7 linked regions of the Homo sapiens genome follow. The protein of the gene in region 3 interacts with the protein of the main gene of each other region in a pairwise test. Each region holds a gene or a part of one and is shown on either strand. Other genes may lie near its edges. The genes, in order: TMPO, SFT2D1, STOM, HMOX2, CYB5B, DAGLA and LNPEP.

Evidence for each region.
Region 1: the proteins of STOM (region 3) and TMPO interact in binary tests that used the Homo sapiens proteins (3 or more experiments, as listed by UniProt).
Region 2: the proteins of STOM (region 3) and SFT2D1 interact in binary tests that used the Homo sapiens proteins (3 or more experiments, as listed by UniProt).
Region 4: the proteins of STOM (region 3) and HMOX2 interact in binary tests that used the Homo sapiens proteins (3 or more experiments, as listed by UniProt).
Region 5: the proteins of STOM (region 3) and CYB5B interact in binary tests that used the Homo sapiens proteins (3 or more experiments, as listed by UniProt).
Region 6: the proteins of STOM (region 3) and DAGLA interact in binary tests that used the Homo sapiens proteins (3 or more experiments, as listed by UniProt).
Region 7: the proteins of STOM (region 3) and LNPEP interact in binary tests that used the Homo sapiens proteins (3 or more experiments, as listed by UniProt).

Annotation. Positions count from the first base shown.
Region 1 is NC_000012.12:98,543,090-98,546,589, reverse strand, and holds part of TMPO (thymopoietin), read right to left. Parts: intron 2,361-3,500; coding exon 2,241-2,360; intron 2,149-2,240; coding exon 2,053-2,148; intron 1,640-2,052; coding exon 1,529-1,639; intron 232-1,528; coding exon 143-231; intron 1-142. UniProt on the Homo sapiens protein: May help direct the assembly of the nuclear lamina and thereby help maintain the structural organization of the nuclear envelope. Possible receptor for attachment of lamin filaments to the inner nuclear membrane.
Region 2 is NC_000006.12:166,325,546-166,329,045, reverse strand, and holds part of SFT2D1 (vesicle transport protein SFT2A), read left to right. Parts: intron 1-688; coding exon 689-770; intron 771-2,878; coding exon 2,879-2,914; intron 2,915-3,500. UniProt on the Homo sapiens protein: May be involved in fusion of retrograde transport vesicles derived from an endocytic compartment with the Golgi complex.
Region 3 is NC_000009.12:121,346,251-121,349,750, forward strand, and holds part of STOM (stomatin), read right to left. Parts: intron 3,074-3,500; coding exon 2,870-3,073; intron 1,900-2,869; coding exon 1,765-1,899; intron 1-1,764. UniProt on the Homo sapiens protein: Regulates ion channel activity and transmembrane ion transport. Regulates ASIC2 and ASIC3 channel activity.
Region 4 is NC_000016.10:4,503,898-4,507,397, reverse strand, and holds part of HMOX2 (heme oxygenase 2), read right to left. Parts: intron 1,915-3,500; coding exon of another isoform or gene 1,874-1,914; coding exon 1,788-1,873; intron 504-1,787; coding exon 386-503; intron 1-385.
Region 5 is NC_000016.10:69,459,119-69,462,618, forward strand, and holds part of CYB5B (cytochrome b5 type B), read left to right. Parts: coding exon 1-3; intron 4-3,311; coding exon 3,312-3,402; 3' UTR 3,403-3,500. UniProt on the Homo sapiens protein: Cytochrome b5 is a membrane-bound hemoprotein functioning as an electron carrier for several membrane-bound oxygenases.
Region 6 is NC_000011.10:61,679,058-61,683,190, reverse strand, and holds the start of DAGLA (diacylglycerol lipase-alpha), read right to left. Parts: upstream 2,801-4,133; 5' UTR 2,687-2,800; intron 2,380-2,686; exon of another isoform or gene 2,359-2,379; intron 689-2,358; exon of another isoform or gene 591-688; intron 1-590. UniProt on the Homo sapiens protein: Serine hydrolase that hydrolyzes arachidonic acid-esterified diacylglycerols (DAGs) to produce the principal endocannabinoid, 2-arachidonoylglycerol (2-AG).
Region 7 is NC_000005.10:96,977,580-96,981,079, reverse strand, and holds part of LNPEP (leucyl-cystinyl aminopeptidase), read right to left. Parts: intron 1,943-3,500; coding exon 1,102-1,942; intron 1-1,101. UniProt on the Homo sapiens protein: Release of an N-terminal amino acid, cleaves before cysteine, leucine as well as other amino acids. Degrades peptide hormones such as oxytocin, vasopressin and angiotensin III, and plays a role in maintaining homeostasis during pregnancy.

The sequences.
Region 1 (3,500 bases), on a different chromosome or scaffold from region 3:
GACTACAGGCATGTACCATTGTACCTGGCTCCAAAAAAACAGCTTAATTCTGAGCAGAAGTACAGTAACTTTGTGATGAAGAATTAAAAATAAAGATTCCCTACTAGAATACACTAGTACTTGTTTAAATGTATCTGAATACCTAATTCCTGTTGGTGTAGATGCTTCATAGGGGAACATTTCCTTAAGAATATCCCTTTCTACTCTTCTTTCCTCTGTTTTTTCTCCCACCTAATAAGAAACAGACAAACAAACAACCACAAGTTAAAATTTAGTGTAAACATGCAATAATTAAAACATAAATAGTAAGTTTTAGAGAACAAAATGCCTTTAAATCTATCATAGATTTTACAGCTGCCATTTCTAAATTATTATTTAGGTATCCACATGCTTCCAAGGCTCTCTTCAAATTTCTTGAAGATACCTTATATATGTGGTTATTGGAGTGAAAAACTGCCACACATTTAAATAACTGGGGGGAAAAAATTCAGTAATCTAACATGGCAATGCTAATTCCCTCATTGATTTTGTTTTTTACTATTAAGAGTATATTGTTGGGCCGGGTACGGTGGCTCACGCCTGTAATCCCAGCACTTTGGGAGGCTGAGGCGGGTGGATCACCTGAGGTCAGGAGTTCGAGACCAGCCTGACCAACATAGTGAAATCCCATCTCTACTAAAAATACAAAAATTAGCTGGGCGTGGTGGCGGGCACCCGTAATCCCAGCTACTCAGGAGGCTGAGGCAGGAGAATCGCTTGAACCCAGGAGGCGGAGGTTGCAGTGAGCTGAGACCGTGCCACTGCACTCCAGCCTGGGCAACAGAGCAAGACTCCGTTTCAAAAAAAAAAAAGTATACTGTTTCTTCATTTATTAAGAATTCTGTAGTAAAAGATAAAATACAGAAGATACTTAACATGAACCTTTAGCAAACTTTACTATATGTTTTAAAATTATAGTCAATGCAATATGCCCAAATTAAAAAAAATATAATGTTTAGCTTGTTTTACTGTTTACCTTTATGTCCAGAACAAAATAATAAATGTTTCGGCTCCTTTTGTAAAGATTCATTCAAATTAAAATGCACCATGCAGTTAGTACTTTCAAGCTTAATTACACAGGAGTTAACCCATTCCAGCACCACATGAAGTTATGTTAAAGTCTCTTATTTGACCCGTCAACAAAAGAAAGTGTAGCCTCCCTCATAGCCCAGCAGCACTTTCAAACTTGCATCCATGACAAACAGAACATATTATAAGCAGAACAGAAATGACCACTCCCTTGAAAACTGGAACTTAAGAGGGATACAGTGGCAAGAGGATAGTATTAGCATGTCAAACTATATTAGTTAATTTCTGTTTTCACTAATAAAAGTGTCCTTAAAATAATTTATGCATATTTACACACACCACCCAATAAAGAAAGCTCTGCTCCCTCCCACTCCAAAAAAAAAAAAAAAAAACAAACAAATATTTATATTTCCTCTTTGAAAGATCAATGATAGCATCGATCTAAATTGTATTCATTTACTTCAGCTCTTGTCAATGGTTTCTTTGGTGCTCTTCTGGGTATGTCTGAGAATTCAGTGATTGGCAGAATAGGAGATGCATGCTTGAAATTTCCAGTCACCCTATTGACAACCTGCCAAGATTCAAATTATTCAGACTCAGAATTATCCAAACATAACACAGACACTTAAAAAGAAAAGAAAGATATTTTATCTCTGTAATATTAGAAATTTTCCCTTAGTAAAGATTTAAGCAACACAGCCTACAAACACAACTTAGTGCCTCACATATGAAGCCTCATTCTTCAAATATTTTAACAAAAAATATCCTTATACTTTCTTGTACAATGAATTAGATTTCTTTACATAAATTGGATATTATAGGAAAATTCTAAAATTCAGAACTATATGGGGAAAATCAGTTTAAAATTGTTAAAAAAAAAAAACATGTAAATTTGAGATTTGCCAAAATTCACCACCTCCCCATTTCCAATTAAAGGGTAATTTACAAAGAATACCACTTGTATAGTTTATGAAACATATTTACTAAGGATTCGTTGCTTGAAGCCATTATAGTTTCAGCTATGGGAGTACTCTCTGAAATTACTGGACCATCTATACGAAAATGTTCTGAAGTTTCCACCTGTTAGTTTGAAAACAAAACAAAAACAATAAATATAAAATAATACTAAAACCCTACAAATCTGAAAACCCAAGGAATAAGCCTTGCATCACCCTTTTCCTTGGAGTTCTTCTTGACCCTCTTGTAGATTCCCTAGTTAATGCCTGCAGAGGTCCGCCTTTTGAAGATCCACTTGTCCATTCAGTCTCAGTTATTCCAGCTTGAGAATAGCTCTATTCAAGCATCAACACATTAAAAAGTCATATTCTAACATCAAATACTTTAATAACGGCCATACTGGCACACTGAGAAGCCATGAAATAGAAGTCTCCAAATGCCAGCATTTACAAACAAGGCTATGTCCTCAAAATATTCCTAAATGTATTAATTGAACTGATATTTAGGCATCAGGAAACACTTAAAAAGTGCTAAAATACACTAAAGAATCCACCTATAGTAGCTCACAAATTATAAACATTATGGGAAAAAAAGCACATCAACTATCACCAGTTCCCTTTTTGACTCACTGTGTGCTATTTGGCTCTAGTATTGGAGCTACATCTCTGTCTAAACAAAAAGCAGACTGATCATGACTTAGAAAAAAGTCATCTATTATAAGTCAGTTTCCTTTTAAAACAAAAATACAAACTTTTGTAATTGTTAGCATAAACATTATTATTTTCATATGGTTATAATCATTTTAGTAGAATCAGTTTAAATTATAATCCCACATATAGCTTATTTGAACTAAAAAATTCTCAGGTGTCAAATTTTTCTTGGAAACAGATACAAAATTAGGTAGCCACAAAAACCCTGTGGTCACTCTTTAATGAATATGCAAGCCTAACGTCACTTTCAAATCTCAATGCTATCCATGTCACTACAGAAAGACAGAAAACAGCTGCCTCAGATTAATTCTCAGTCTCAGATTAATTTCTATGTTCCACTGATCATTTTTAAAGAATCCAGCATTTCTTACATACTGGTTTAAAACCCATTAGATCAGTTCTTCTTAAATTGTAATGTGCCTATCAATCACTTGAAGCTTCTGTTAAATGCAGATTCTGATTCTGTAGCTGTAGGGCCCGAAATTCCGCATTCCAAGTAGTTTAAGGTTTTCAGTTTTGAAGTCGCTATTACCAGATGATTCTTTTAAATTCTTTTAACTACAGAACATCCATCAATGATCAGTATTATAGTAGAGTGTCCTTCTGTTGTCACTTTTGCTTTCACGCCAATATTTAACCTAGATTACTGATGGTTTTAGGTCCAAGTCAATGTCTATTAAAGACAGATTTTTTTTTTAAACTTTAATCCTGTGACAGGAGTGGTCATCCAATAAATATGCCTAAATGGCTGGATGTAATACTACC
Region 2 (3,500 bases), on a different chromosome or scaffold from region 3:
ACTCTAGGCTTTGTTCTTGTGGAGCTTACATTTTAATGAAGAAGATGTTCACATGATAAGCCAGAAAAAGATGGGATGGCATTGGTGCTGTGCAGAGAATTAAAACAGGGTGTGGCAGTAGTGACAGAGGGCTACTTTATATTGGGAGTATGAGAATCCCTCTTTGAGAATCTTTGTCGCATCTTTGGGTTGTTGTTTGTCTTAGCCCTTTTTATGCTGCAGTAACAGAATACTGTAGACTGGGCGACTTAGGAAGAATAGAAATTTTTCTCACAGTTGGAGGCCTGAAGTCCAAGGTTAAGGCACATCCATCCTGCTGATAGATGCATCCCCCAAGGGGAAGATCCCTGTGTCCTCCCAGGGCAGAAGAGGAAAGAGCAACCCCCAGGCAGCCTCTCCTCCAAGGGCCTTTGATCCCTTTCAAAGGGAGGAGTTCTCACAGCCTAGTCCGGTCTTCATACTAACACACTGAAGACACTTACATTTTGGAGAAGACACCTTCACACCATAGCATGTCTATTGGTATAGTTGTAAAGTTTCTTTATAAAGTTAAGGAAAAAAAAAATTTTAGTGAGAGATTTTAATTAAATAAAGCAACAGGGCTTCTTTTTTAAAAAAGTAGTTTATTTTTGCATAACCAGATAAATTAGTAGACCTGTACCTCAGTCACTTTATTTGTTTCAAATAGTACATGCTTTTTAATGGGACCTGTGAAGCAACTGAAGAAAATGTTTGAAGCAACAAGATTGCTTGCAACAATTGTTATGCTTGTAAGTAAATAATACATTTTTAAAACTTTTATTGAAGTATTCTTTGCACTGTTATTTTACGAATAATTGCCTGTTATGTATGTATACTTCTTTTTTTATTTTTATTTTTTTTTATTATTATACTTTAAGTTTCAGGGTTGTATGTATACTTCTTGTGTTGAATATAATAATTATATCCGGCCGGGCACGGTGGCTCACGTCTGTAATCCCAGCACTTTGGGGGGCCAAGGTGGGCGGATCACCTGATGGCAGGAGTTCAAGACCAGCCTGACCAATATAATGAAACCCCGTCTCTACTAAAAATACAAAAATTAGCCCGGTGAGGTGGCATGCACCTGTAATCCCAGCTACTTGGGAGGCTGAGACAGAATCACTTGAACCTGGGAGGTGGAGGTTGCAGTGAGCCAAGATCACACCATTGCACTCCAGACTGGCCAACAAGAGTGAAGCTCCATCTAAAAACCAAAAAAAAAATATATCCTATGTGGTTATAGAGTTCAGATGGTACAGTATTGTCTAAGACTACTGGCTGGGTAAAGCCTGCTTCTGCTGCGTATATGGCATGGTGTAGCTGCGTATTTAAATGGAGCCTAGAGCTGAGTGTGCTTTCATTTTTAAGCCCTGCTGATGGTTTCATGAGGGATTGTTAGTTTGTACCCTTTAGAGGGTGGGCATAGACACCCTCTATGCTGAGGGTGAGATTTAGCATCATTTGTCATCTGACTTTTGTCCCTTCTCTGTGTGCCAACTTGACAAATTCTAACAATATGGCTCCCGTAACAGTATCTTTAAAGGTGCCTTCCATTACATTGTGGGTTCTGTCCACAACTCTCAGGTCATCACTCTTATTATCTTGAGCCTGGGTGGCGGGTAGATGAGAGCTTACACTTTGGCTAGTAAGGTTGTTTCCATTCTCATACGTGCTGGGTGTTCAGCTGATCATCGTTTTGTGTATTGTGGGCAGGAGGGGGACCCAAATCTCTTCTGCATCCTGCCTCTGCCTCCTAACTCACCTGGTCTGTGTCTCTTGTGGATTTCTTTTGCCTTCAAGCATTTATGATATTTAAAGAATTTAAATGTTACCATTATAACTATTAACATTAGCTTTCCAAACACAGCTAACCTATGTTAATTTATAAGGAAATGTTTGTTAACTCTAATCTGCCTGGCAGTCTTCTCCCATCTCCTCACTAGAGTAAAAACTCATTTTTAGCTTTATTTATTATGTCTTTATTCAACTTCATAGTTTCTTACCACTTTTATAATCTCCAATTATTTTGAATTTCCTATAATAGCATATGTATCAACATATATATAAACATTTAACTTCAGATTACTAACAAAGTATATTTCACTGTTAGAATATAAGTAGTTTATATTCCACTAAGATTTTAGTTAGTTTTATTTAAGAAATCCTGGCACTTACCCCTCAAACTTTTTAGTAACATACTGTACCTTACAAAAACACACATGTTGAGAGAACGTGGGAACGTTTGAACATATAAGACGTCTCCCAAGGTGGAGCACTTTGCGTGGTTTGATTTGCTGCCCACGTAAGATCACGCCTAGTAATGGTGGTGAAGAGGCTGTGCCACATAGAGCCTTCCACATGCCAGCTTCTAGCTCAAGCCCATCACGGATGCACTCTACCTTATTCATTACAACAGCCCTTTAAAGCAGGTAGGTAGGAACTCTCCTCATTTTAAAGAGAAGACAACAGGTTTAGACGAGTCCACTGACTTCACCAAGGACCCTCAGATAGCAGGCGTCAGAGCTGGGATCTCTTTAGGTCTTTCCAACACCACACTGCCCACCTCTTGCATTCACTCCTGTGCCTGCTTGCTTTCATGGGGATGTGGAATGATCATCTTTCAGTTTACTTAACAGATTAAATTATTAGATGCTTCCAATTTGCCAAGGAATATTGCAGTCATAGACTTTAAAGTAAAATAATACTTACAGAAAATACAAGTAAAACTATTCAGCTGTATTCTTATTTTTGTTCTATAGTATATTCCCTATGTAAATGAATGCAGAATAGTTTATGCATTTTTATTAGGCTTTTGAAAGGATCTCAAACTTATAATCTACTCTTTCTTCCCCTGTAGTTGTGTTTCATATTTACCCTGTGTGCTGCTCTTTGGGTAAGTTATGTCAGCCCTACTGGCTTTCAGTTAACTGTGTGCCCCCCACCCCAGCTGACGTGTCATCACACCATTATCTTAAAATAGCTCATCTGTTTTTTTAAAACTCTCTAAAGATTAGGTGTTCCTAAAATTTGACATGTTACCATCCAGCTAGTTGCTAAAAATGCCATAGATTCTACTGTCTACAGCATAGAGGTAGTCAGTGAACACACATGTGCACACATGCTCACCCACCCAGCTGGTGGCTAAATGTGCCATAGATTCTACTGTCTGCAGCATAGAGGTAGTCAGTAAACACACATGTGCACACATGCTCACCTACCCAGCTGGTGGCTAAATGTGCCATAGATTCTGCTGTCTACAGCGTAGAGGTCATTAATAAACACACATGTGTGCCCGAGCTCACCTGCTTGTGGGCCTGGTTGGCAAATCTGACAGTGCCCGGTGTGGTGAAGGGCCCTGGCTCAGGGGCTGTGCTCTCCACCATGCTGCTGCAGGGGTGCGCTGTGAGTCTGCAGTGGTGAGGCAAGTGTGCTGCCGAGTAGCAAGGTGTAAAACCAATAGAGAGGGCCAGAAAACACAG
Region 3 (3,500 bases):
AAGTGCTGGGATTACAGACGTGAGCCACTGTGCTTGGCCTCAAGTTTTGTTTTTTAGAGCTAACTCTAAGCAGTTGAGGGTTGTTACCCAGAGTGCTATAGAAGGGTTCTGAGGCCAAGTCTAAGCTCAGAGGAAAACAGTGCTGTGGTTAATTACTAGCATGGGAATAGCAGGATGGAGTGCTAGCATCTGGGCTAAGTGTTTGCCACCTATGGAAGATAATCTCTGAGGATCCTTTGGGCTCTGACATTCTACGTAGTATATGTATGGTACATTCTACTATTCAATCTGGTTTGGAAATGAGGCTTTTGCCTAATAACATATTCTAGTTAAAAGCAATTCCTAATTTTCAAAATAAGGAGATGATAGGGCACATTTAATAACATCGTAAACATAATTTAATCTTCTAAACGTAACAGTTTTGAAAGAAAGCACTAGAGGGTTCTGTAGTACTACCAGGTTATCATCACAAAGCAACAATCATCATACCAGGAAAACCTAAACATTTTGGTTAATGCAAAATTCTGAAGTCGCATGTCAAATGAGCTACTATCCTATTTGATGCTGGCTAAGAAATTATAGTGACCAGTTTGTGGCTTAAAGGGCATCCTAAGAAAAGAACAGCGTTCTGTGGTCAGCCAGTGATGACCAGCTACTACTATTTTCTAACAACAAATTGGTTTGCTCCTTGTGTCTTGGGAGATTTGTCAAGTCCACAGCAACTCCTCCTATGAAAACTGCTCTTCTTCTTCAGCCCATTCACAGGCATAGGGCTGTGGAACCATATTATTATGCTATCTTTGCACTTTGACCAAAGTTGGACCAAAAAGACTGTCTCTTCTGTGAATGTGGAATTAGGGCTGGTCTGTGTTCTTTAGTGTTCACCTGGCAGACATCTAAACCTGGGAGCTAGACATTCTCCACCACAAGCTATCTACAGTGAGATGTGGCACAGGAAAGGGAATGACTAGTTCCCTGAACTGCCTTCTGGTTCCAATTTTGGTGAGACTTGCCCCTACTTCCTACCTTTGGGTTTGGTGAGATATCCCTGAAATTTTACACATTATCATCTTTAAAGATACTCTTTTCTAGGTTAGGTTAACAAATATTTCCTCAGTGCCTCCCAGAGGGGCCATGCCACCCATGCAGGGTTAAGACATAGGCAGATGATGATGAAAAGAAGGAAGAAAAAAGGCAGATGTCAAAGTAAGAGAATATAAACAAGAGGAAAAGAGAGAATGAGGAATAGGAAACAGTAAAAGGGAAAAAGAGCCTGAGAAAAGAAACAGAACAAAAAAGAAGCCAAAAATAAGTAAGAGATGGGTGGTATGGATGGAATGATGACCCACTTGCTCCGAAGTTGGAACTGTTAATTTGACCTTAATATGGAATCGGGAGAATAAGTATGGTACACACAGTCATAAAAGAATGAGGTAACTCTACATGTACTGATACGTCCATAGATATTAATATTAAATGAAAAAAGCAGAGCGCAGAACAACATGTGCAGTATAACCCTACTTTTGTAAAACAAACAAGCCAGTAATCCAAAAACCTGGTCAAATAAAATCCAAATACACTCAACTGTTAGGAGTGGTGACCTCTGGGGGAATATGATTTGAAGTTACGGGGAGGGTTTTCACTTCTAACTTTACCACTTCAAGATTATTTCAAGTTTTTACAGCAAGCATGTTTTACGTTTTTTTATAATTATTAATAAAAGAGAAAACTCAGTAAGAAAAACAAGTTTAAAAAAAAAGTTACCTTGGCGCGGGCCTCGCGGGACGCTTCTGCTTCTGCAGCCATAGCTCTCTGGAGCTGCACAGGTAGTTTCACATCCTTAATTTCCACACGCTCCACCTTTATTCCCCAGGCATCAGTGGCATCATCCAGAGTAGACTGTTAGGAAGAGAGAAGGCAAGCTAAATCTCCTCAGCCCAGCCCAGATGCTGACAGAGGCTGTATTCATTGGGATTTGGAGGAGATAAGGTGCTGGGGAGAGTTGTGGAGAGACAGTTACCCCACGGTGGAACGAATGGTGACGCAGGGGCTGGCTCACTGATCCTGATTCTGTTGCTAACAAGCTAATGCAGGGGTTAGCAGCTTCTTCTAAAAGGGCCATATAGTGATTGTTTATTTGTAGTCTCTGTCTCAACTATTTAACCCAGCTGTTGTAGTCAAAAGCAGCCATGGATAATATATAAATAAATGGCTGTGGCTATACTCCAGTCAAACTTTACTTACAAAAACTACAGCCTGTAGGCTACAGTTTGCCAACTCCTGAGCTAATGTGACTCTGTGTAAGTCATATTACTCCTTTGTGCTTCAACTTCCTCCCTTTAGAATGTCAGGAATGAAACCACACATCTATTTCATAGGTTGTTGTGCATATCAAATACAATCATAGATTTTACCCACGATGAAGTCTATACAAATAATAAGAATCCAGAGTTATAGCACTTTATCTTTTTTGAATAAGCTATGCTTAACTGAATATCTGTTACTCAAGAAAGACTGGAAAGCACAACAGTTATAATTCATGGGACTCACACACAGAATAAAGCTTTAGGAATACCTACACTATCTTGCAGAATAGCCTCTGTTCTAAACAAAAAGGTTATTACTGATTCTGGAAAAAAATACACACTGAAGAAAATTTTAAAAAAATGTACGCATGAGTGTTATGAACTCATGAACTGCTAATGTGAAAAATGTCCCCTCCTGCCAAATTTGAAAAATTTTACTATGAAGAAAAAAAAACGGTCACAGACCCCCACAACTTGAATTAATAAAAGGTTCTCAAACAACCATTGACTCTTTGCTTCATTTTTCAGCTTCTGGGGGGTAACAGCATTGACGTACTCCCCACCTGCATGTTGTGTGCAATTTCTTCTCTGTCAGAGAGGATCTGAGAAAGATTCTTGGTGCCCAGAACATTCCTCAGAGTAGTTTGTGCCAAAAGACGGGTTGCTGAGTCAGCGTTGGTGATATTTGCCACAGCCAGGGTTGCATTCTGAACGCGGTAATAGACCACACCATCCACGCTAATTGTCACTGAATCCTTTGTGAGGATCTACAAGATGAAGGAAGCAATTTTACATCTGTCAACGACTTTTTTTTAACATAACTGTAAGGAATGTTATTCTACAGAATATCTTATAACACTAGCTGATTTTCTTTAGTAAGGCATCAGAAAGTTAATTATATCTTTTAAAATTTAATAAAATAAATTATTCAAGTCCATTAATTCATTCAATCATACAAATAATATTGAGATATCACTCAACAGCAGGCACTGTACTAGGTACCAGGGATTAAGGTAGGAAAAAAACTTGGTTCCTCCTTTGAAGGAGGTTAGGGAATCAAAGGAAACTCTTAGGGGCAGCTGTGGGTGGCAGGGGTGATACCTGAATTGAATCTTGAAGAAAGGAATACAATTTTTCTGAGGGTGTTGGGTGGAGTGGAAGAATATTCAAGAGAGAGGCACTAGAGAGTCAAGG
Region 4 (3,500 bases), on a different chromosome or scaffold from region 3:
TCTCGGCTCACTGTAACCTCCGCCTCCCAGGTTCAAGTGACTCTCCCACCTCAGCCTCCCAAGTAGCTGGGAGTACAGGCACGCGCCACCACACCCGGCTAATTTTTGTATTCTTAGTAGAGACAGGGTTTCACCATGTTGGCCAGGCTGGTCTCAAACTCCTGGCCTCAAGTGATCCACCTGCCTCGGCCTCCCAAAGTGCTGGGATTACAGACATGAGCCACTGTACCCAGCCGAGAGCCAGAGCTTAACGTCAAGAAGGAATGGAGTGTGGAGAAAAGCCCAGCTTTTCCCTCAGAGTGGCTCCAGGGGCACTTTTCTCATGGGACCAAGGCCCCCACCCCAACCCCATATGACAGTCTGGAACCCAATGCGGGGCACAAACCTTAAACAGCTCCTTCTTAATGTTGCCTTTCAAGAAGTCCTTGACAAACTGGGTGTTTTCTGCCCGGTCGTGTGCTTCCTTGGTCCCTTCCTTCAGGAGCTCCGAGAGGTCAGCCATTCTGTGGAGAGATGGGAGGTGTTTGTGTGTCAATTAGCCCTTCCCAGCTTTCCAGAAAGGACCATAGAGAGAAGATTGAGTCCACACCCCAAGGTGACCACCTGTTGTACTGGAGGCTGGGGCTTCTCAGACACTTCACTCCAACACAAATAGCAGCAACTTGTCAGGGAACACAGGACAAGCAGACATGACATTCTGCTCCAAGGACTCAGGACACAAGGGATAACTGTGGCCTGCTCCTTGAGAGTAGTACCCACGTCCATGTGTCTGTGTTGGGAACCACCCAAATGAGCAATGCTTTGCTTCTGTGGCCACCTAGTGGTCGAAGAGACACACATCTGTATTCCCTTCAGTATTTGCTGGCTTCTCTAAGAACAGCCTGCCTTGGAACGTGTCTTCTGGAATTCACACACCTCAGTAAGGCTGTGACCATGGGTCTCCTCAGATGGCCCTACTGCCTTCCTCCCACCTTGGACCCACAGCTTCTTTGAGACTATATGTGACTAGGACCAAGCACGGAAGGATGCAAAGGAGACAACCGAGAGGCTAGGGCCAGGACGCTGGGTTTGTGCTGCTTAACGAAATTACACAGTTGTAAAGGTGTGTGGATGGATGGACAAGGTAGAAAACATGTGATCCTAAAGATGGTGGTACTTGGGCAGGGGCTTACATGTGTCCACACAATCCATCTACAAGAGTGAGAAAAATTTGGCCTTATCATGGTCTGGCTTCTGCTGTCTTCTTTAGGAGATTAGCTCGTTATCATCCATGTGCTGAGAATCAATTTATTATTAGCAATTATTTCAAGGGATAAAAAAAAAACTTGGCCAATGACAGGGCTATGAGAGGCTAATGATGCAGAACAGGGCCTGGAAGCTCAGGTTTAGCATGAGCTGTCCCTATACAGAGTAAGGAAAGGCTGCCCTGCAGTCTTTTATGTGGTAAAAGACTGAACAGAGCCAGCTTTGCCTGCGTTTACCCTTTCTCAGCCCAGATGAGGAAACGCACAAGTTTTTAAAAAGAAAAAAGGATAACTACCATCAAATCCTATCAGCACTCCCAGGAGCACCTGCCCTGCCTCCTTGGATGAGACAATGGACCAGTGGGGAGAGTTCTAAGCAGCCGAAGCTGTATGCGGTCCCTGCAGGGCCAAGCAGGCACCCAGGGGTCCAGAGCTCATGGCCCATGGCCACTCCCCAGTGCTGCCAACAGACAAAACCAGGTGTGCTGAGCACGACAGGTGCTGGGCCCACCTGATTCAGTGCAGCCAGCCCCCATCGCTCACCTCATTTGGTTCTCCTTTTCTAGGGCCCCAGAGTTCTTTTTTTCTGACTCGTCTACCCCCTCTGAGGTTTCCACTTCCGCTGACATTGCTGCTGGGTGTGGTTCTTGCTGCTCTCGCTCCTCTGGTCCTGCAGAGACACAAGGAGCTGGTGATGTGGCACCCACGGCAGTCACTTCCCCAAATACCTGTCGGTTCTGCTTTCCTCAGAGCGAATGTAACCAAGGTGACACCCACACACCCCAGGATTGTTTTCTTTAAAATAAAGCTCTGCCATTACTGGGACCATAGTGGAATATGGAAAAAATCTGAATATGAACAATGTATTAGGTAATAGCATTGTATTGACATTAAGCTTGCTGGTTTTTAAAAATAATTGTACTGCGATTATATAAGAGAATGTCTTTGTTCCTAAGAAATACACACTGGGGTATTCAGAAGTAAAGGTACACTGCCTGCAACTCCCTGTCAGATGGTTCAGAAGACAGTGTGTGTGCATGTGCATATGCTGCAGGGTGGGGGACACTGGCAAGTCAGAAAAGCAAACAAGGCAAAATCCTAGCAGTGAATCTGGGGAAGAGGTATGAGAGTTCTTTGTACTATTCTTACCATTTTTCTGTATGCTTAAAACTGTATCAAGGCAGGGCACAGTGGCTCATGCCTGTAATCCCAGCACTTTGGGAGGCCGAGGCAGACTGGAGTTTGAGACTAGCCTGGTTAACATGGTGAAACCCTGTCTCTACTAAAAATACAAAAAATAGCCGGGCATGGTGGTGCACACTTGTAATCCCAGCTACTCGGGAGGCTCAGGCAGGAGAATCTCTTGAGCCCAGGAGGCAGAGGTTGCAGTGAGCCGAGATCACGCCGTTGCACTCCAGCCTGGGCAACAAGAGCGAAACTGTCTTAAAAAAAAAAAAAAAAAAAAAAAAAAGACCGTATCAAAATTAAAAGTTAGGCCAGACACGGTGGCTCATGCCTGTAATCCCACCACTTTGGGAGGCCAAGGTGGGTGGATCACCTGAGGTTAGGAGTTTAAGACCAGCCTGACCAACATGGAGAAACCCTGTTTCTACTAAAAATGCAAAATTAGCCGGATGTGGTGGCGCGTGCCTGTAATCCCAGCTACTCAGGAGGCTGAGGCAGGAGAATCACTTGAACCTACGAAGCAGAAGTTGCAGTGAGCCAAGATCGCGCCACTGCACTCCAGCCTGGGCAATAAGAGTGAAACTCTGTCCAAAAAAAAAAAAAAAAAAAAAAAATTGAAAGTTACCAAAAACAAAGAAAACCTCAAAAACCTTAGGGAAACAAAAAGCTTGGCAAGCAACGCACAGTTCCACCCCTCTGCAAGCGTGCTGAGGCCAGTTCATCCTACCTGTGAGAGGCTGGGTGCCTTGTGCAGAAGGCAGCCTACAGGAGTTACCAAAAAAGCAGACTGTCCCTAGCCTACTCAGGACTTTGCTAGGCTGAAGGAAATATTAAGTTGGCCAATCAATTCCCATTGCCTGCTGCAAATGCTGAGCCTTTGTCAGCCAGGGAAACACAGTCCCATAACAAGGCAAGCTCATCCTCCATCCCTCGGGGCTTCTGCTCAGGCAATGTAAGGCGCAGCCCATTTGGGGAATCTTCCACATGAATAGCAGCACAGTAGCACCGACAACTAATAAAGTAACTCACAAAGACAGAACTGGGGCCAAATCAGGCCAAACTGGGCCAAGG
Region 5 (3,500 bases), on a different chromosome or scaffold from region 3:
AAGGTTAGTATCTCCTTAACAGCTTTCCATACGTTCAAGGTAATGTCTGGCAAGAGACTCTTCCATAAGTATATGTATGTAACATAACTTATGAGTGCAGTTTGACAACTAATTCTTTTTTGGCCCAAATCATTGCAAATTCAGTTGTTCCTTGACATTAGAAAAATTAACTTTTACAGTTTCAGCCATTTTGAATAATCTAAAAGTTTCATGCCTTGAGTCATTTTTTAATCTTATTGTGACATAAATTGGAATCACACTCAGTAAGAGGCCAGGATGCATGGACAGGTAGCTACTATTGGGTCAGCCTTTAGTCCCGAAGTTCAACCCAGCTACATGATTCTACTTAAAACTTAATCGCATTTACTTCTCACAACCACTCTGTAAGGTAAGTGCTATTATTACATATTGCAGGAGAAAAAAATACTACGGTCATATTTAGGAATTTGGGTTTTCTCAGGTTTATTTACAATATATTCCTTGGCATTAATATTAGTAATTCATTAGTATTAGCTCTGAAAGTTATAAATTGCCTTACCTTAAGTGCCTCTATCTAAAATGACTGTGGAATCCTTGGCTTGTACAGTATCTTTGTGGAGATTATATAGAGCTAGCCATTCTATTTTTTGGACATCTCGAAGTATTTCAGAGAAAGAAAATATGTCTTTTTTTCCCATAAAGTATCAGATCTATTACTTGAGGTAACGGACACAGTATAAAAAATTACAAACTATTAGTAAATTTAGTTTCCTTAATATTAAGGGCTTAGGATCAGCGAAATGCTGCATAAAAATTTTGAAAATACAAGCCACAAAATTGCAGATTTTAAACAAAACTTATGCTTATGCAGGGCCGGGCGCGGTGGCTCACGCTTGTAATCCCAGCACTTTGGGAGGCTGAGGCGGGTGGATCATGAGGTCAGGAGTTCGAGACCAGCCTGGACAACATGGCGAAACCCCATCTCTGCTAAAAATACAAAATTAGCTGGGCATGGTGGTGCGAGCTTTGGGAGGCCAAGGCAGGAGAATCGCTTGAACCTTGGGAGGTGGAGGTTGCAGTGAGCCAAGATCGCTCCATTGCACTCCAGCCTGGGCAACGAGAACGAAACTCCATCTCAAAAAAAAAAACCAAACCTTATGCTTATGCTATAAAACTTAGACTTAAGCAAAGCATAAAACTGATAAAGAATTATTAGGTAGAAGATATAAAGAATTCCTACAAATCAGTTTTTTAAAACCTCAGTAGAATATGAGAAAAAGATTTAAGCACTTTACAGAAAAGGAAACACAAATGTAAACATATGGAAATGAGGTTTAATCTCATTCATCATTAGTGATATGTGAATTAAAATCATAGGTATATTTCATACCTAACCAGATTGGTAAAAATTAAAAATTTTGCAAATAAGAGTTGGTTGGAAAGTTTATCACCGACTCTTAAGCACTCCTAGGGTAATGTAAATGAGTATAATCACTTTGGAAAACAGTTTGGCATTATCTAGTAAATTTGATAGGATGACTTAACTTTTGACCCAGCAATTCCATTTCTAATGATATACTTGATAGAAATGTGTGCCCAGGTACACCCAGAAATATATGCAAGAATGTTCATAGCAGTGTTATTCGAGATATTCAAACATCAGAGACAACCCTAATAAATTGTGGTATATTCATACAATGGAATACTACAAAACAATAAAAATAAAGGAATCACAAACATGTAGTAGTCTAGATGGATCTCCAAGAAGAAAAATCTGTCTTATGGTAGGAAGTTATTGTTGAACCTGAATCTCCTGTGATGCAGTATAAATGTATTTCCTCTGGTTCTCTCCTCAGTGGCAGTTAAGTATTAGGAAAGATTATGTGAGGATTGGTGTCAACCATTCTCAGTCTTTTGTACTAAAGAAATTTTCTGGCCGGCGTGGTGGCTCATGCCTGTAGTCTCAGCAAACTGGGAGGCCGAGGTGGGTGGATCACGAGGACGGGCTGAGACAGAAGAATGGCGTGAACCCCAGAGGTGGAGCTTGCAGTGAGCCAAGATCGCGCCACCGCACTCCGGCCTGGGTGACAATGAGACTCCGTCTCAAAAAAAAAAAAAAGAAAGAAAGAAAGAAATTTTCTCCTTCAATGTTTTCTCAAGGATCCTACTTTTGGATTCTTCAGTCTCTTGCGGTTACTCTTCAAGGAGTCTGAATTCATTACTCTTATCAGGAGATTACTTCAGAGTTCCCATGTGCATATTGCTGTTATACGTGCCATATTGCTTGGTTTTGTAAACAAAGCTACCTGGCTGATATTCTAAACTAGTCCAGAGTAGCTTTCTGCTGTACGTAAGCATACAGAGTGCTAGGCATGTTTAGGCAAAGAGAATCATTTTTCTTATGAACTTCAGCTCGTTTTATTGACTTCAAAACCTTTTAATACCAAGACTCATATGTCTTAAGTAGAGGGGCAGCCGGGTCATTTGGATCATGGAAGAATTATACCTTAAAACTAGTGTGCTAATAAGTTCTATTAAAGAATTATTATGTTAAGGAGAATGATGACTGTTCTGAAGCTCCTAAGGAAGGTCTCTTGCAGTACTTTTGAAGCTGCCATTTGCTTCACCCTGTTAGAACTGTATATGCTTTGTGTGTATGTGTATCCTTATTAGTGTCCAAACTTAACTAGGGATTAAGAGGATGGGTTTGGAATCAGACTGTCCAGCTGCCTTTCTAGCTTTGGGATTTGGGGTGCAAAGCTTATATTTCCCTTGTATGAGATGAGAATAATAACCCTATTTCGTAGGTTATCCTATTTCATAAGGATTAAATCTTTAAAATACATATGAAGCAGATAGGATATTTCTGGTAGTTATATTAGATATGATTACTTCCAAATTTATATTGGGATGGATATGTTTTTATACATATATGAAATGTCACATACATAATGGTGTTTTTTCCTGTTTAAAAATGTTTAATTGTAGAATACGTGAAAAGCAAAAGCACAATGAAGAAAATGTGAGAGTATCCATAATCCCTAACTCAGAAATAACCACTATATGACTTTGTAGAAACACATATAGAGGCATTTAAAGACATCTTATTTGATATCATACTATTGGTTGTTTTTAACCTTTTAAAAAATTACTTTGTAATATTGTCACTCCAATTCAAATATTTTTCCCCAACTACTTTGTGATAAAAGCAGTTAAATTTCCCAAAGTAAATAAAAACTCCTTGCCTATATAAAAACATGTGAAAGCTGAAAGATAGTGAACATTTGGCTTAAAATATTAACAACTTTATTGCTTTCTCCCCCTATTCCTAGTTGCTGGGCATATTGGATTTTACCCATCATAGGCGCTGTTCTCTTAGGTTTCCTGTACCGCTACTACACATCGGAAAGCAAATCCTCCTGAGGAGGCCTTGCTGAAGTTAGAAAGTGCATCCACTTTGGGGCGAAAACTAGAGACTTGCTTGGGGGCTGCAGAAGTGCCCTCTCCTCGAATCCTGCCAG
Region 6 (4,133 bases), on a different chromosome or scaffold from region 3:
TCCTCGGGGAGCAAGGATGTGAAACAGGTTGCTGGCTAAGGCAGACACCCGCATGGAATGCTGAAGAAACGGCCTGGGTGAGAGAAAAACAGGACTTCCAGCGCCATGGGGCAGGGTCTGCAACTCAGGCTCTGCAGCTTGTTGTCGGGAATTAGGCTCCTGGTGGCAGAGAGCAAAGCACTGTGCAGCCACCCTCATCCTCCCCACCTGGGAAGGCACTTCAGCCAGAAGTGGGGCCACATTGGGAGAGGTGCCACACCTGTCTGCCCTCAGAGGTGCCTGTAGCCCCCTTTCCTTTCCCCTATGTGTCTGAGGGCATCCTCCACACCTCCCCCCCCCGTCCCCCTGCCATCCAGCCTCAACCTCCCGCAGAACCATCCAGACCTGAGCCACATCGATCTGTGGATGCTCTGACCCACTTCATTTCCTTCAGGCCACAGCCCAAAAGACGCTGATGTGACTGCTCCCCACCCCCGTTCTCAGAACCCAGAGCCAAAGGAAATTCTCCAGAGAAAACACACACACTTCCCAAGTCTTCCTCCCACACAGGTACCCTAGATCTGTCAGCCACAGACACCTCCCAGACCTACCCTGGCAATGAGGCACGTCTGCTGCCCAAGCAAAGTGCTTCCTCCTGCTTGGGCCACTCCTGCAGGACTTCACAGCTGCCGGGGCCATGCTCAGGACTGTCCTCTGGAGACCGGGGGCCTGGTTCCAGCTCAGCAGCTGACTCACAGTGTCAACAGATCCCACTTGCCCCCACCGGGAGCATGTGCGCTCAGGGCCTCTAATTCCCTATGACAGGCCCTCAACCTTCCGGCTCCCTTCCTCCCAATCACATCCCGTGCCACCATTTCCTATGGCTCCTGCCTCCAGCCCTGGTCTCTTTACTTGATGAGACTCTCTGACCTTTGTACAGTCTTTCGCTGTTTGCAAAGTGTTTCCACGTGCACCATTTCCTTTCATTCTTTACTACCAGACCACCATGTGACATGCCTTGATTGGTGAAGTCACCTGCTGAAGGTCACACAGCCAACACTGGAATTAAAGTGATATGGCTCCAAAGGCATCGGACAGTGCTCCGGTTATAGGGAACTCATCAGCATCTCCAAGCACCCACCTTGGCAATTTGGCGACCACCTGCCACCCTACCCTCAACATCATCTTTTTGGACTCATAAGTGCCTTCCCCAGCACAAGCTCAACCCTGTGATTCTTCTACCACTGATCCCACTCCCCCAAGAGATCCACAAAGAACTGAAGATTTCCCCTACACTGTAAGACTTCTCTAGGAGGAGCTGCAAATTGCTTCTCTGTAAAGTAAGGCACTAGGTGATGCTGAGTGAGACCTTCACCCAAAGCTTCCCAAAGGACTGGTGAGAGCAAACACAATCTCAGCGCAGATGGAGGGGTTTTAACATAGGAGCTAAGCAGAGAGGACAGACAGAGCCCTTGGAAAGGAATTTAAGCCTGGGGGTGGGAGTCCCGGTGGCCCCAGCAGATTCCCAGTGGCTGCAGAATCATCTTTCAAGCATACCCCAATCGATCCAATCCTCTGGACCCAAAGGCTCCCCAGCATCAAAGAAGAGAGGCAACTCCCAGATACCCTGGAGTGAACCCATCAACCCAGGGAGAAGGCAGGACCCCGTGACTACAGATAGATGGTGCGCCATACCACTCCCTCACTCGCTGACCCGGGTTACCTCTTGGTCCTGCTTGCTTCTCAGGACATATTCTGGGACACCGATCACCACTGAAAATCATCCACCCCTCCCTTCATTCCCAAAGCTAGATGAAAAGCTAGATGAATGGTTCTCTCTACCTTAGCCCAGGACAACGGTAGTGCCTGGAAGGTCTCTATCTGGGTTACCATCAGGGCCCTTGTGGTAGAAGCTTCTCCTGGCATCTCTTGTTTATGCCCATTATAAAGGACACCAACCTTCTCCCAGCCTTCTGCCCTCCTCAGTCCAGTGTACCCAACAGGCATTAAAACTGGACCCCCATGACAGAGGCAGTGTCCCCTTCATCGCCCGTGAGGAAGGATGGGCATTTACCCTTCCCATTCATCAGGATGGGAGGGCCACGGACTCCCCCCGCGGCAGTGCCGGGTAGCCCCCCGCACCACACCGTGCCAAGGCCCTTTCTCACAGTCATGCCAGGAACTCTAGCCATGCTGAGAACACCAATTCTTCAAGCCCCCAGTGCTATCACCCCAGATCATGTCAAGCCCAAGGCCAGAACCATCCCAACACCCAAGCAATGGCAGCACTTCCTCACACCCATGCTAGCGGCACCACCATGCCGGCACGAGCTGGCCACCTATCCCATAACCAGTCCGAAGGCCGTGCCCATCACCTACCTGTGCAGACAGCTGCACCACCTCACACCTGCGTGGCCACCACCGCACCAAGGTGGAGGCGAGTCTTCTGAGACCCGTTCCAGGAAAACCACGCCGCCTGTGCCGGACCCACGTTGCCCACGCCCGTGCCACGCGTGTCACCATCCCCACGCTGGTGCCAGGGGCTCCACAGACCTCACACCTGCCACGGGCGCGCGTGGCAGCTGCAACTCCGCCCGCCGACCCGTCGGGCCGGCCACCGCGCGCCCTGGACACTGCCCAGCCCGCCGCGCCGCTCGCACCGCGCCCGCGCCCAGGACCGGCCCGCCGCGCCGGAGGCCCCCCTTACCTCCCGCCCGCCGCAGGGCTCGGCCCGCCGCCGCGACCGCCACCTCCATCCTGGGCTCCCCAAGGCCCCGATTCACTAACGCCGCTTCCGCAGGGCGCCGGCGCCGGCGCGAAGGCCGCCTCCGCCCCCCGGGGGACGCTGCGTCCTTTACGTAAACCCCTCTCCGCCGCCAGCGGTGACCATGGCGACGGTCGTGGGGAGGCAGCGCCCCCTGGCGCCAGGGAGGGGAGCGGCGTCGAGGCCAGGGAGAGCCGAGTCTTCCGCGGGCGCCGGCCCTGCGCGTGGGGGCGGTGGGCGCCTGGCTCAGGCTCGGCTGGGGTCCCGTGGGCGGCCGGGAGGGGCTGGACTGGCCGCGATGCGTGCGGGGAAGGGAGCCGCCTGGGTGCCTGCCCCTCCTTTAGGTCCCTCGTGACCAGTTTTAGCGTGGGAGAGGGAAAAAAGGAAGTAGGATCACTGGAGAACTGGTTCATTTGTGGGGAGGAGAGAGACGGGTCCCACCTCCTCGGGGTGACTGAACTCTGCTTGAGAAGTCAGAGCATGGCTAGAGTTCCTGGCGTGACTGTGAGAAAGGGCCTTGGCACGGTGTGGTGCAGGGGTCTACCCGGCACTGCCGTGGGGGGAGTCCGTGGCCCTCCCATCCTGATGAATGGGAAGGGTAAATGCCCATCCTTCCCCACGGGCGACAGAGCCCGTGGGTACCCTGGGTACCCCCTCCTCCCTACCACCCCCCCACCCCCCACCCCTACCCCCGTTCCCAGTGCCCAGCATCGTGCCTGGTCTCCAAAGGGGTTTACTTGGTCAATTTTGAATTTCTGGTAAATGAAGAAAACCGCCCCTCCTGTTCCCCTTCACGCCCTTTCATTCACCGTAAGTCGCTTACACCTCCCTGGGAGCACTGTGCTGAACTGGGGGAGTGGAGCACAGAGAGGAGCAGAAGGCGGGCCCTGACTTCAAGGAGCTCATTCTGCTGGGGAGGAGACGCAGATGGAGGGGGTTTTAACACAGAAGCTAAGCCGAGAGGACAGACAGAGCCCTTGGAAAGGAATTTAAGCCTGGGGATGGGAGTCCAGTCTGCAGGTCGGGATGACTCAGCTGGGTCCCAAAGATCCAGTAAAGATTCATCAGAGACAAAAAGGGGAAGAACGTTTTCTTTCAGGCAAGAGAAGTGCCTCTAAAATGTTTCCTAGGCCCTGTTGCCACCCCCAAAATCACAGTGATCGCGCAGTTCAGTAGAAGTGGGAGCCATAGGTGAACAAGGAGGTGTGGGTAGTGGGGTGCCCGGCTTGAGCAGAAGCCTCGGTCTGAAAATTACGTGGACATTTGGGTTGGAAATGAGACTGTGAGGCCAGGACTGCCTTTTATTGAAGCAGATGGAGCCACTTCTGGAAGGAGTTCTGTGTTACCTGTGATTATTTAGAAAGCAAACTCACGTAGGTAACAAGGAAAA
Region 7 (3,500 bases), on a different chromosome or scaffold from region 3:
AGGCATTATAGAAGGAGAACTAAAGGCAAGAACTTTCAAGTTCCCATTGCAATTATACATTTGTGTTCAATCCCAGATCTCACGCAAGAATTGAAATGCAGGGCCAGTATGCCATTTATTTTAAAAGTATTACATAGAGGGAAAATAAAATAAAAATTATTTATCTGAATAGAATTATGGATCTTGCTTGGTCTCTTTCTCCATTTAAGAAGGATCAAAAAGTTTCCTTTAGATGTAGAATACTCATTTCTAACTATTTCTCTTAATATGTCAACATACATTAGCCAAATGGTCAGCATCAGTAATTCACATATTGTTTTACAGAGTAATATGAGAGAATGTTCCAATTGCATAAAGCAGATGTCGTGAGGATTTTGTGCACAAGACAACTGATATCACTGCTACTTAAGAATAACCTCCATACTGTGTGAACTCCATCTTCCCAGAATTTCAAACTACATGCTATGAATGCTAAGATTAAAGTACTAAATATATAGTCCAAATAGGGAGCTGAATAATTTTATATTTTGTCTCACCTTTTTTTCTGAACCAAATTAAGTCTCTCCTAGACCTTAAAAAAAATTTACACCAGAAATCCAAAATAGACTGGCATTTTAAAAAATAATAAACCAGTAAAGATTAAGGATATTAAAAATGATATATGTAAGCACACCACACTTCACACTTCTTCATGCCCTCTTTCTGTATTTCACTAAGTACCTCCTAAAAGTTCTGCACATTAGGAAAATAGGTCTTAAAGAATAACTCCTCTTTACTCTGCTTCCCAACAGACTTCATGAGGTGACAGAAAACTAGATTCACCTTAAAAATGTGAAAAACTCAAGATAACAAGTTTTGGATATAATCTTTATCCATCCTTTTCCACCAGCACACCCCTATCTCCACCCCACCATGATATATGCTCAAGGCGTTGACTAAGAGAGATAATATATTGTTCTAAATCACCATTCTACTATTTTGTATATAACTTCCTAAATTAAAAAAAAAAATCACAATTCGTGTCTCTGGTGTGGACAAAGGGATCTATATTGCAGAAGTTATCAGAGCGTAAAACCAGAATCATTTAAGAGGGCTACCTACTTTTTCTCATTACTTTCATCTGTGTAGGAGAAGCCATAAAACCCATAATAAGAACTAGATATATTTGCCGAGTACTCTATCTTCAACGTATAATTGTGCCCTGCTAGAAGGGCTTCGGGGGCAACAATGGCGATCTGTCCATGATATGCATATTCCAGGATCTCAGCTTGTTTTTCTTGGCTTGAAACTGCTGACATAAAGGTCACTCTTGAAATATTATGACCTGTGCTATGAAGAATGATATTCCATGTGACCTGAAGAGCCTGAACTGAAATTGTCACAGAACCCCTGAATGTCATCGAGGTTAGGTTCGGGTGTAGGCTGAGTTCATAGCGTAGTGGCACAACGGCAGTGGGAAGCCTGATCTGTGCCCATGGAAACAATTTCCCATTTGTTGCAAATGGCTGAATTAGTCCAATTGACTGGTTTTTTTTATGGCAGCCTTCTTTGGTAAAGGTACATCTGGGCAGTAAGTAAATCACCATGATTACAGAAACAGCAACCACGATGACAAAAGCACAGACCACCATGGTCCTTGCAGAGGGTACTGAACAAGCCCCATCTGGGCTCTGCCTGTAACCAGTTGCACTGTTCCGAAGGCCTGAGCTTCTATTCATGAAGGACATGCCCAGCAGCTTTGCTGATGACTCATAATCCTCTTCATCCTCCTCCATCTCATGCTCACCAAGACCCCGCACCAGCAGTCGGGAACCCCGGGGCTCATATTCCACCTCATCAGGCTCTAGAGGATGTAAACAAGGCTCTTTGGCTAAATCCACCACATCTGGTTCTTCCTCAAACATGCTGTTTTCAATCATATTCCTGGGGAGCTGAAGCCGATCTAAAAAACCAAAACATAAGAACAAGGCACAGAGTTAGAAAAAAAAAAGCTCATAATATTAATAACATGTCTTCTACCTAGACCACATTTAAACTAAGAATTTTTTTAAGTCACTAAGACTTATTTCCATCTCAGAGCTACTGAATTAAATAAGATGTTTATACCATTGAGTCATCCATTAAAAACTAAAACATAAATAAAAGTATACCACAGTTATGAAACAAGAAAGCTAAATAAACAGGCTATTATATTTTTAAAAAGTTAGCTGAGATAATATACTAATTTCCTTAATATACTCCTGCCCCACAACCTGGGACCCTGCCCTGGGCTTGAGAGGGCACTGTTTTGGCATTCCTCTGACTATGTCTGTCCCCACCAGGCGAGGAGTCAGTAGGATCAAAGGGATGTGCCCACCTACAGTCCACGGTTCCCCTTCTAGGGTTTGGGCACTGCAATCCCAGAATTTCTGTCCAACAGGCCTCAAATCTGCTTCCAAGGTATTTGTGGGTCTCATCCCTGAGTCTCATTCTCTCTAGGGAGCACCACAAGCTGGTATGCCCATTTCTAAGATTGAGTATGGCTAAGCAACAGGATGGGTTATTGTTTTCCCCTGAAAGAGGAATGTTTCTGTCCCACAGCAAATGGGAAGCAGCAAATTATATGGGAAATTTCCATAAGCAAGAAATGATTTTTAAAAAGATCAAAAGACAATAAAAGTCAGATAAAATTATAATTCAATCTGTTTTTCATGCTTCCATGGCTTTCAGAAGTACAACATATTTCCATGGGAAACAACCATACTGCACACCATGAGTGTTAGTGGATCTCAGTGGGAGCTTTTACAAACTACAACAAACCACACCTTCCGATTTGCCAAAATCACTGAGAAAAAAGACTCTAGAAGTAGAAGGGTCGATAATCCCCCATATATCAGTACTTCCTAGGATTAGATCGTTCAATGTTTTTTATTTAAAATTCATACAATTTTAGTTTTTAAGGGATCTCAAAAGTTATCAAATTGAAACCTCCACTAATCTTCCCTACAAGGGAAGATACTTTATACCTATCATTTCTAACCCTTACAACAATCCTATAAAATGGCAAGTATTCTATTTTAGACATGAGAAAATAGAAAAAGAGAAATAGATTAATTCGTCTTCATAAAGTCACACAGCTATTTAGTCATAAAACTGATATTAAAGCACAGGTCTAAAAATTTGATTCAAAAGTTTATGCTCTTTTCATTATATTGCATCCCTCTACTCAAACTAATTCAATAAAAGATGAGAGCCCTGAATTATTTATTTCATACCTGGCAATGAAGTTGCTAAGAGTATTATTTCACCATCAGGAGAGCAAAGCTTACAAAAAACTACTGAATATCTAGCTTAAGATAAATGCTATGTATTTTGTGCTATTCAACAAACACTGTAATGGTGGAAACTCTTCATCCATAAAACATATTATTGATAAATATTAGGATAAAATTTGCAGTTTTGCTGTTCAGTGTGGCCTGTGACCCTGCAGCATTTGCATCACATTGCAGCTTGTTAGAAAC